Linked DNA regions of Homo sapiens: region 2 is linked to region 1. The links come from fine-mapping of genetic effects on gene expression. A gene starts in region 1. The other region holds a variant in brackets. All regions are shown on one strand. Distances are from middle to middle.

What was found. PIP is the estimated chance that this variant, and not a neighbour inherited with it, causes the effect. A credible set is the group of variants that fine-mapping cannot tell apart.
Region 2: its variant is the best candidate, but not a certain one, in a credible set for the expression of NCAM1 in pancreas (GTEx, PIP 0.56).

The regions. Positions count from the first base shown.
Region 1 is chr11:112,958,813-112,964,187 of GRCh38, forward strand. It overlaps NCAM1 (neural cell adhesion molecule 1), which reads left to right and starts at 2,608. Exons shown (of 20, transcript NM_181351.5): 1 at 2,608-2,852. The coding sequence starts at 2,801. NCAM1-AS2 (NCAM1 antisense RNA 2) reads right to left here and starts at 4,648. Exons shown (of 3, transcript NR_120563.1): 1 at 4,398-4,648; 2 at 2,555-2,664; 3 at 467-2,039. RefSeq lists an enhancer at 2,551-3,328.
Region 2 is chr11:112,613,094-112,618,468 of GRCh38, forward strand. No RefSeq gene overlaps it. Among named protein-coding and RNA genes, the nearest start is that of LINC02764, 60 kb to the left of the region's middle. The variant C/A (reference allele first, on the strand shown) is at 2,752.

The DNA.
Region 1 (5,375 bases):
CGGAGATATACAGAATTGGAGACAAGTGACATATCCTGTTAAAAGAATTTGGGAGTGATACTGGGAGTGTGGACTGGAATGACTGGGGCAGCATTCTAGAATGAATCATTACAACAGAGATCAACAACCACACGGGGTAGGGAGGGGCTGGAGAGAGAGAGGGAAAAAAAAGAAATTCAGTCATACTCAAGTGAGATTGGATTTCCACACTTGCCTACATTGAAAAGCTAAAAATAGGGACATTTGGGGAGAAAAATAGTGAGGAGTCTTTTAATTCTACTGACAGGACTATAAGGAGGGAGGTTTGCAGGGAAGAATGTGTCTCTCACTCTTAGGGGCAAAATTGGAAAAATTTTTATTTTGGGGGCCCCAACCTTCACTCTCCCCACTCTACCCCCTGCCTGTTCTCTCTATCTTTCCTCACCATCAAAACCTCTTTTTTAAGGAAAGAGTCTGATAACATTCATTTACATAAATCTGTAATATTTAATGTGGTGATTTTAGATGTTAGAAGCAGAAGTCTGAAATCAAAGACACTTAAATACAGCAACCATTAAAAAAAGACGTATATAATTCACTGCATCTAGCACAGGGCTAAACCCAGTGGTTGCTCCGCAAATATTTGTTGAAAGATGTTCAAAAAAGCCTTATTTATATTATCAAACTCCACAAACAATATAAATATGCAAAAATGGGGAAACCATTGCAAAATCATCCATATGAAGAAATATTACATAGCTATAAAAATATCTAGAAAAGCTTTTTAATGATCCAGAGGAATAAATGCTTATACTGATGTTAGGCAAAATCAGCAGGATTCAAATTGCTACTATAATATGTCAATTATAAAAATCATATGCACATACAGAAGACAAAATCTATGAGTATCTCTGGAATCTGTGGGATTTGGGGTTATTTTTAGTTCTTTCTACTTTTCTGTACTTTTGAATTGTTTATACTTGGAATGAGAGAAATAGCCCAAAGTAAACGTTGTGGAAGATTTACTTGGGGGAAGAAATACTTTTCAGGGGTCCAAGCTAATTACACTGTACTGGTGTGGCCCACTTGGTCTATTATAGAGGAGGAAAGTGGGGAAGAGATGGGGCCTGTCCAATAAGGATGGATGTCCTGACAGTAGAGGATGGACTTTTAAAAACTGCTACAGCGGCTGGGTGCGGTAGCTCACGGCTGTAATCCTAGCACTTTGGGAGGCTGAGGTGGGCAGATCACGAGGTCAGGAGTTCGAGACCGGCCTGACCAACATGGTGAAACACCGTCTCTACTAAAAATACAAAAATTAGCTGGGCGTGGTGGCGCGCGCCTGTAATCCCAGCTACTCAGGAGGCTGAGGCAGCAGAATCGCTTGAACCGGGAGCAGAGGTTGCAGTGAGCAGAGATGGCGCCACTGCACTGCAGCCTGGGCGACAGAGCGAGGCTCCATCTCAAAAAAACAAAACAGAAACAAAACAAAACAAAACAAAACAAAAAACCTGCTACAGGAGTGGGGAGGCCGACCTTTGAAGAAAAACGGAGTACCCGGTAACATTAGTGCTTTAATGCCTTTGAACTTATGCAGACTTCCTCTGTTAGAGGGTTTCAGTGTTCTAGGCTAATGGGTTAACCTGACATCTAGAACACCTTTCTCACATTAGTTCCTTACATACCCAAGCCTTCAGGTGCTGAGACATGATTCTTTTCACCCCGCTTTCTCCACCCCCTACTTTTGAAAACACGGGTGGAATTTTAATTAAAGCCTATTGTGTTGGTACCTCAGTAATATTATACATTAATATCTTTAAGAATTAAGGTCACGTCCCCATGTAAGAAAATATTATTTAATGACGCTTCTATATCATAATACCTATATAAAAGCCTGGCTATTTTAATAAAGAGACCACAGATTTCAGAATTTATAAACAGGAAAACATTTTCTTCGGGTTATTTCTGGAAATCTCTTCCAAACATCGGAGTTTTCTTCTAACTTAAGTCTCTTCCCACCTCCTTCCCAGGGGATCTGCTGAAGGGTGTTGTATGTCTCTCTGTGGGAGAGCAAACTTCACAGTTAGGATAAAACAAACAAACAAACAATATCCAAACAACACCCAGCAACGGCAACCCCCATCCCTCTCCAAAGTTCTAATTTCCCGCACTTAAAGTCCTGGGCTATCCTTGTGTTGCAAGGATCTTAGAATCGAAATGGAGGGATTTGACAACTTTACCTAACCAAATCTAAAATTTTGCTTTTATTATTTACTAGTTATCAAAATATGCAAACTGCTGATTAAGGAAGGCTGGGTAGCAGGAGCGCCTGCGAAGGCGTAGGGTAGAAGTGTGAAAAGAAATCCCAGCTCTCCCAGGGAGACTGCGTGTGAAAGAGCCCGGCTCCCCCAAAAGCTCCAGGCCGCGTTTTGCAGGCTTCCGCATCTGCCTCCCCTGTCTCTCTTACCTCCTTGATGTTCGGCACTATTTGTGGCCGGCGTGGTGGAAGGACACAGTGAGGTTCTCACCCCCGCCCCCCGCTCCTCGCTCCCATCCCAGTTCCATCAAAACGAACCCGGGCCAGCGCAAGGATCTCCGAGTTGCGAGTGTGCTGAGGCTGGGACTGTCACTCATTCTCCGATCAGCGCGTGAACGCAGCTCGGCTGCCGCTGGCAGGAAACAATTCTGCAAAAATAATCATACTCAGCCTGGCAATTGTCTGCCCCTAGGTCTGTCGCTCAGCCGCCGTCCACACTCGCTGCAGGGGGGGGGGCACAGAATTTACCGCGGCAAGAACATCCCTCCCAGCCAGCAGATTACAATGCTGCAAACTAAGGATCTCATCTGGACTTTGTTTTTCCTGGGAACTGCAGGTACATTTTTTTTTTTTTTAATTCTCAATCTGGTTTGCTAATTACCCCTTCCTCCTACTCCTAGGAGGAACGCTATTATTTTGGGTGGTTTTACGTGGACTGCTAAGGCTGGTCATTTTCGTTTAGCTGTGAAAGGAGCGCGTCGCCCTTGCTGCCCAGCCGAACCCCGCTCCCTCCAGGGCTGCGCTGCACGGGGCTGCCTCCCCGAGCCGCCAGCGCCCGGCGCCCCTCCGGCGCGTCCGCCCTTCCCACTTTGTGCGCCCGCGGCGGTGGGAGCAGAGCCGGCCGGCTCCTGGGGACTCAGCGGCCGCGCTGGTGATGGGCAGCGCTCCTTCCCCAAAGGCGGGCGGCGGGGCGGGGGAGGTCGCGGCTCGGGTGGTGCCGCCGCACGGGCTCGGATTCCGAGGGGGAAGTGGCTTGTCAGCCCCGGCTCCGGGAAGAGTGAACAATAAGGCTAGGGCAGCCGCCCCAGATCGTTATATTCCTGGGTCTAATAAAGTCAGGATCGCTGCTTTGCTTCCCCCGCCCCAGAAGAATAACGGTTTGCAAAATGGGGCAAAATGGGCAGAATCGCACGGCCGTTGTTGTTGGTGTGACCGTTGTTGCACCCCAGTCGACATGACGTTAGTTTTTCATTTGCCAAATTGCTGGTTAGTTGCAAAGCCTACCCTCGGCCGCGAGCACTGAAGGATGGGAGGGTCGAGCGCCGCGTTTTGACAGGAGGAAGTGCGGAGGGGCGGAGGGCGAGGAGGGCGTGATTGGGGCTGCCTGGTGTGTGCGCGCGCGTGTGCGCGCGTGTGTCTTTACACGCGCCGCGTGCCCAGTGTTGCACGGGGCGGGAGAAGAATGGCAGGTAGCCGCCCGAAACACCTCGCCCTGTCTCCTTTCTTTGGGCGAGGTTCCCGATCCTGGCAAAGTGTGAACAATAGGGAGCTGGGAGGAAGACAGTAGTGATGCTGCCGCGGGTGGCGGGGGTTGCGCCGCCGCCCAGAGAACCTCGGCAGTGTGCAGGGAGGTGCATTTCATTTTGGCTATTTCCATCCCGGCCTCCCTGGAAAATTCTTCTGTGCGTGCCCACCCTCCCCTCCAGCTGTCATCCCCCCACCTCCACCCAAGGATTTGCGCTTTGGCTCTGATGGACGGGAGGGAAGGAAGAAAAGCAGGGGCCGCAGAGAGCTGGGTGGGTTGGGCGGACATTCTGGGCGGGGGGCGTGTGCTGGGAAGCGATCGAGGAAAGCCGGGCGGAGGGGCTGTGTGTCGCGGTCGCAGCTCCAGGTACCGTTGTACCTGCCCTGGACGGCCGACCCCCGGTTGGGGAGCGCACGGGGCGGGCCAGGGAGCACCCAGTGCGCCCCCTCCGCGGGCGGCACAAGAGCAGCGCTCGGCCGCCGCCTCCAGCCAACTCGGGTCCCTCCCACGGCGACCAATCAGTGCGAAGCTGGCTGGGCGGGAAGCCGCGAGAGGCTTTTATTGCGGCGCGGGTGGCGGCCAGGAGCTGCCAGGACAGTCTCCCGGTGCTTCAGCCTAACGGTCTCGCTCACTCACCGCCAAGAGAAACCCCGCCCTGCGGCCGGTCCCCCGCCTGCCCGGCAGTTTCCGAGGAAATAAAATGGAGACTAGGTGGTCACCGGGAGTGCTCCTGGTCCGGCCGCCCGTGCTCGCCCACTCTCGCCTCTTTCACGCCGACTTGGAGCATCCCACCGCCCCCGCCAGCGCTCACTCTCGCGCCGCGGAATCCGGGCCTGAGCGCGTCGCCGGGGAGGGCATCCTGGCAGGCACACCTACGCGCGTGCGCTGACCGGCCGACCGCGGGCCGGGGGCTCTACTGACGGCGGGGCGGGGCCGTGGCAGGGCCCGGAGAGGAGGGGTGGGGACCAAGCCTAGTCCGCCTGGCCCTGGGTCTCCGCTGCCACCTGGGCGGGGGCCACCCCGGTTATGCCCCTTTCCGCGGTGCCCGTGGGTGCCGCGACGCGACCTGTCCACATGGGGCGGGGGAAGGGGGGTGTTTTTGAGACATCCTCGCCCCCGGGTGGGAGCGTGACAATGGAGCCCGGATATTTGGTGGGCCTTTTGGGGGATCGCCTGGCGGTCCTTTCCATCATCGTGATGGGTACAGTCATCAGTATTTGGATCCCGTGGAAGTTGCAGGCCCAGGAATTCCCACTGGGATGTTCCTGGATGCCCAGGCAGGGGAGGCATTCTAACCAGTGTTCCCTGGAATGAAAGCGACCTCTTTCCTGGCCCGGTACCTTGAGGATGGGAAGAAGGCAGAACGTGAAACACATACAAGGTTGCTTAACAAAAGAAAGAAGTTGAATGGTTTTCCAAAGAGAAATAATTTCCCATTAAAATGTCTTTTGTACCATAGTTTTTTTTTAAAAAAATCAAAGAATTCAAGTCAAAGGGTTAGAATGAAAATGAAAACATAACAACAAGTATATATACATATGTATATATATCTGAGGTTTTTTTTTTGTTTTTTTTTTTTTTGTTTTTTTTTTGGACTCAAATGTAGCATGTCCA
Region 2 (5,375 bases), 350 kb before region 1:
TGTGGTGAATCTCCCCAGGCTAACTCCTCCTATGATGGGAGCTCAGCATAAAAATTACAGCTGCCTCAGAGGCCACCTGACCCTGATGCATCAATCCCTGGAGTGAGGCCAAATCACCACTTAAAATGACAATTCTGTACAAAGTGGCACAATGACATGTTAAAAATATATAGATGAATATAGATGTAATATGAAAATATGTATTTTTACTGCTCTCCCCATCAGAAGCAGGCATGTTAAAGGTATTAATCGGCATTCCTCTCCAGAGGGATCCTCTAGTTATGTGCTTTGGAAGCCAGACAGGAAGTGTGAATCATGCAGCAATGCAAAATTAATCCAGACAAAATGAAAAATGAAATGATGCAGCCAAGGTATCTGGGATGGAGGGGCCAGGAGGGTGAGAAGTCCTACCCTGTCTTCCCTGGCTCTCTGCGGGAGAGGAAAGGCTTTATTTGTAGGGGGTGGTTGCTGAGGGACCTGGGACCTCCCCAGAGCAGGATGAGTTGATATGTTCTCTCATTGCCGAGGAGTAGAATACCTGGGGAGGGAAGGTCAGTGCAATGGCCCAGGCTTCCAAACGGCTGGCCCTGACTTTGAGGGCACCTCGAAACTGGTTGAAAGCTTGGCAGGTATACCCGGAAGACACAGATGTGGTTCCTGTCCTCCCACCCCCACAGTGCTGGCTCCAGACATGTGCAGAGTTGGAGGTGACTCAGACCGTGCACGCACCTGTCCCCAGCAGATACTACTCCTATTGTAGGGAGTGGAAATTTCCCAGAGTAGATTCCTTCTTCAGAGGTGGGAAACACAGAAACAACCTTTTCTTTGTATCCAGATTTTTTTTATTTTTAAAAAAGACAAGGGCTCTTTCTGTTGTCCAAGCTAGAGTGCAGTGGTATGATCATAGTTCACTGTAGCTTTGAACTCCTGGGCTCAAACGATCCTTCCATCTCAGCCTCTGAAGTAGCTGGGACTACAGGTACATGCCACCACACCTGGACAATTAAAATTTTTTTTTTTTTTTTGTAGGGATGGGGGTCTTGCTATGTTGCCCAGGCTGGTCTTGTACTCCTGGCCTTAAATGATCCTCCCGCCTTGGCCTCCCAAAGCACTGGGATTATAGGTGTGAGCCACTGTGCCCAGCTTATTTGCAGATTTTAATTTCCTAAAAGCCTACCCATGGGTAATTCCTGAGTGTTTTTCTCAAATAACCCCTCAGTTCAGACAGGAGAGATAATCTTTTGTTCCTTCCTGTTTAAGGACAGAAAATGACTTTTCTTCTCTTAAAGTATCTTTCCATTGCAGGCAACTTGCTCTGGGTCTTTGTAGTGAGATGTGAAATCTCTGGTCCTGACAGACTCCATGGATCACATTTCTGGAGTGAAAGAGTAATTAGGTAGCACGCTTTAGTGTTTTTCAGCCCCTTCTGGGTTTACTGGCAATCACACTGCAGTTTTCTCTTTCTCTGTCAGCTTTAGTATTTGCTACTCTGTCTATATCCTTTTTACTCTTGTTTTAGTTTTTGGAGTTCTAATGTCTGTCTTTTTGAAAACTTTTAAATTCAGACATAACCTGCACAGAGGAAACTGTACACTAATCTCACATATACAGCCTCAATGAGTGCTTCTATAGGAAGACGTCTGATAATCCCCTACCTAGGACACAGAAAATCCTACCTAGGACACACAAAAAGGAGTGTACCTGAACAAGACCAGTCCTGTTTATTCTGAGTCATCTGCTCTTTCTTGAGGCAAATGGGACACTCAGTCAGCCAGCTACCCTGTCAGAGGGAGGGTTGATGGGGCTGGGGGGCACCTACCTTCCCAAGCACAGTAGAGAGCTACAGAGCTCAAGTTCAACCCAGGTCAAGTTGAACAACACATCAAGCCTCCTGGGAGGGCTTCCTCTTGTCCGTTTCTCAGTCCATTCTACCCCACTCCCCAGGCCCAAGCCCATCACTCACTTCTATCATGGTAGTGAGATTTTTTTTTCTGCAGTTTCATATGAATGGACTCATATAGTATAAATTCTTGTGTCTGGCTTTTGTTCATTCAACATTATGTCTTTAAGGTTCATCCATGCTGTTGTGCGTGTCAGAAAGTTTTTTATCTTTAATATCATGTAGTACTCCATTATATGCATTTACAGAATTTATTTATTCTGTTGATGAACATTTGGGTTGTTTCTAGTTTGGGCTAATAAGAATAAAGCTGCCTTGAACATTCTTTTAGATTTTTAGTTGTTGTTGTTTTAGTGAACATATATTCTCATTTCTCTTGGGTACACCTAGAGTGGCATCACTGAGTCATAGGCTATGTGTGTGTCTAGCTTTGGTAGATCCTTCCAAATCATGTTCTAAAGTGACTACAACAATTGACACTCCTACTGACAGTCTATGAGTGTTCCACTAGCTCTATATCCTTTCCAACACTTGGCTCTGTCTCTCTTTCTACTTACAGTTGTTTATATAGGTAGTTGTGTGCTTGCTTGCTCAGGGCCCCTTACTCCTTAATCAAACCCTAAATTTCCCAAAGCATACTGTGCAGGGATTGGGGTAAACAACTTCTTGGGCTGTACCAGTGTTAAAACCAAAAGTCTCAGGATTCCTGGGAATCCTCTTAGTCCTAGGCAAACTGGGATGGTTGGTCACCCTAAGTGCAGTATAATGGAAAGGAAACATGCTTTGGCAAGAAACTATTCTGGTATGAATGCTAGTTTATTCACTAACTAGTTCTTAGTTAAGGGAAAAAT[C/A]AGTGGATAGATGGGTAGACAGATGACAGAGCAAATGTAGTAATATGTTGATAGTAGAAACTAAATGATAGGTATATGATGTTAACTGCCAATTCTTCTCACTTTGCTGTATGTTTGGAAATACTAATAACAAAATGTTGAGGGAAAAACAAAATGGAAATAATGCTTGTTGTTTGTAAGGGCATCAGATCTCAGAACTCAGAAGTGACTTCTTTCCTGTTATGAAACAGCTAAAAAGAACAAATGCCTTCATCATCCTGGTCTTTCAGTTCAGCTGCCCCACCTAGTTCCTCTATCTCTAAAAACCTTTCAGAAGAAGAGAGACAAAGGATTAAATAGCAAATAAGAGCAACTGGAGAGAACTTGTTTTTAAATTCCAGCAGTCATATTGCTTTGCTCATAGTCTTCTTGTGAACAGAGCAGGAAGCTTGGTGTCACCTCTCTGCCCCCCATGACCTGAGGCTGGTCACAGGTAGAATAGGCTGGGCTATTAACCATGACCTGATACCTGCTTGAGCCATATTCTCCAGCCTCTCTAGATTCTAACTTTGCTGTCATCGCTTGCAAAGCTGACTTACTTTTATCCTCTTTCAAAGACATCTCTTGTTCCCATGGCAACTTACTGGGGGTCTTCTATCACCATGGGAACATGGCTGCTGGGTTTAAATACACCTTATAACCACAGCAATAAAAAATATGGGGAAAGAGGGAGACTGGTTGTCAAGGAAACAGGCTTCAGGTCTTCTCCATGAGAGATAAGCTGGAGAAAAGGAAGTGCTGTGGGGTGTTTGGAATCAACACAACGCCCAATCCTGGTCCTGCTGGGACAGCCATTCATTGTGCAGATTCCAGGGCGTGAGTGTGTATGCAGAGATCTTTCTGTGTTGGCCATCTGAACAACCCCATAGGAAAACACCTTGGGGATTTCAAGGGTCTCACAGGAAGCTGTCATATCTCAACCTGAGGAATAGAAGCAGCATGGTCTCTCTCTCTTCACACACACACACACACACACAGACACTGGGCAGGTCACTATGGGGCATCTTTCGTATTATTAAGAGGGCAGCAATTTTGTGGTGAGCAGCCCAGGAAAACCAAACCAAAAGAGCAAAGATCAAAAGGGCTTAAGAAGGGCTTAAGTAATGGGAAATATGAATTCTACCTAGGACACAGAAAAAGGAGTGTACCTGAACAAGACCAGTACTGTTTATTGAGTCAAATGCTCTTTCCTGAGGCAAATGGGACACTTAGCTACCCTGTCAGAGGGAGGGTTGATGGGGCTGGGGGGCACCTACCTTCCCAAGCACAGTGGAGAGTTGCAGAGCAAAGGAAGGCACTTGACCCCTCCCCAGTGGAGGGAAAAAAAAGCCATGGAAGAGGCATGGTGAATTCCTAGATCATAGGCTTCCGACGACATCCAGTACTGTGCACAGTGACACTAAATCAATGTCACTGCTCTGAGAGATCCAAAGAAACAAAGCAAATACCACCTAATTCAACTCTGTATCATTCCTACCCAAGTGTCCATGTCCTTATGCCCATCTGGGAATTGTATCTCTAGCAGGCTCAGTTCAAGGGAGAAATACGAACAAACATATCTAGGCCTGGCTGACAGCTCTCTCCCTTTTCAGCAGTTTGCAGAATCCCAGGTCCTCAGACTCATGTGGTTGCTCAGAGCCACCCATGGCGACATCCTGCCCAGCTTGACCCTCTTCTCAGCCCATTCCCACAACCCCTGACCTCTCACCACATCAGAGTTTACCTTTTTTCCCCATAGGCATGGAGTAGGGGAATAAGAAAGAAGAAAGACAATGTTCTTAGAAAATTCTGGGTTTGAATTGCAGCCTCACCACTTTTCAGATCCATGACCTTAAAGGAATCTCTTACTTAAGTTTCTATTTCTACAACAAATTCATAAAATAATTTTAAGGATTAAATGAGATAATGAACATAAAAATGCACCACAAACTATGGATGCTATGCACTTATGAGGATTGACTATTAAACCTCTGGGGAGCACCTTTCCATTCTAATGGGGGGGTGTTAGACTACAGGAGTGATTCTGAGGGGGGCCAGTCCAGGTCTTGCTCAGAGCCAGGGATGTGGACATTTCCCGTGGTGAGCCGATGTGCACAGGGTCTGTATTCTGCCTCCCTGGATGCCCCTCAGAGCCAAGCACTGTGCTAGGTTCATAATAGGTTCCACAGTGGCTGCTGATGGACACAGGCATGGTGTTATTGATGAAGACTTTTGGTGCCCTTCACATTGCTCCACATAGGTGGGAGCCAGTGTGTCCACCATACCCATGGGGCAGGCAAGGCCTCTCCAGCAGTGAGAGCCAAACAGCCCAGGTGCAGACCCAGTGGAAGCAACCATGTGGGGCAGCCGCAGAGGCAGGGCAGGAAGGCTAGGCAGTGCGATTTTCCCCCAGGACTGCCATGATTCACAGTCTGGCTGCCCGGAGGGGACCTCTCTGCAGCTCTCGACTCCATTATCTTCAGCTCACTCCCCACCCCTGGCCACTGCCCCATTTTCTCCTCTTAACACTTGCAGGCCACCCTGGTAATAGCTCCAGGAAAGACAGATTATCAGTCCCTCTCCAGAAAGGACCAATTATTCATGGC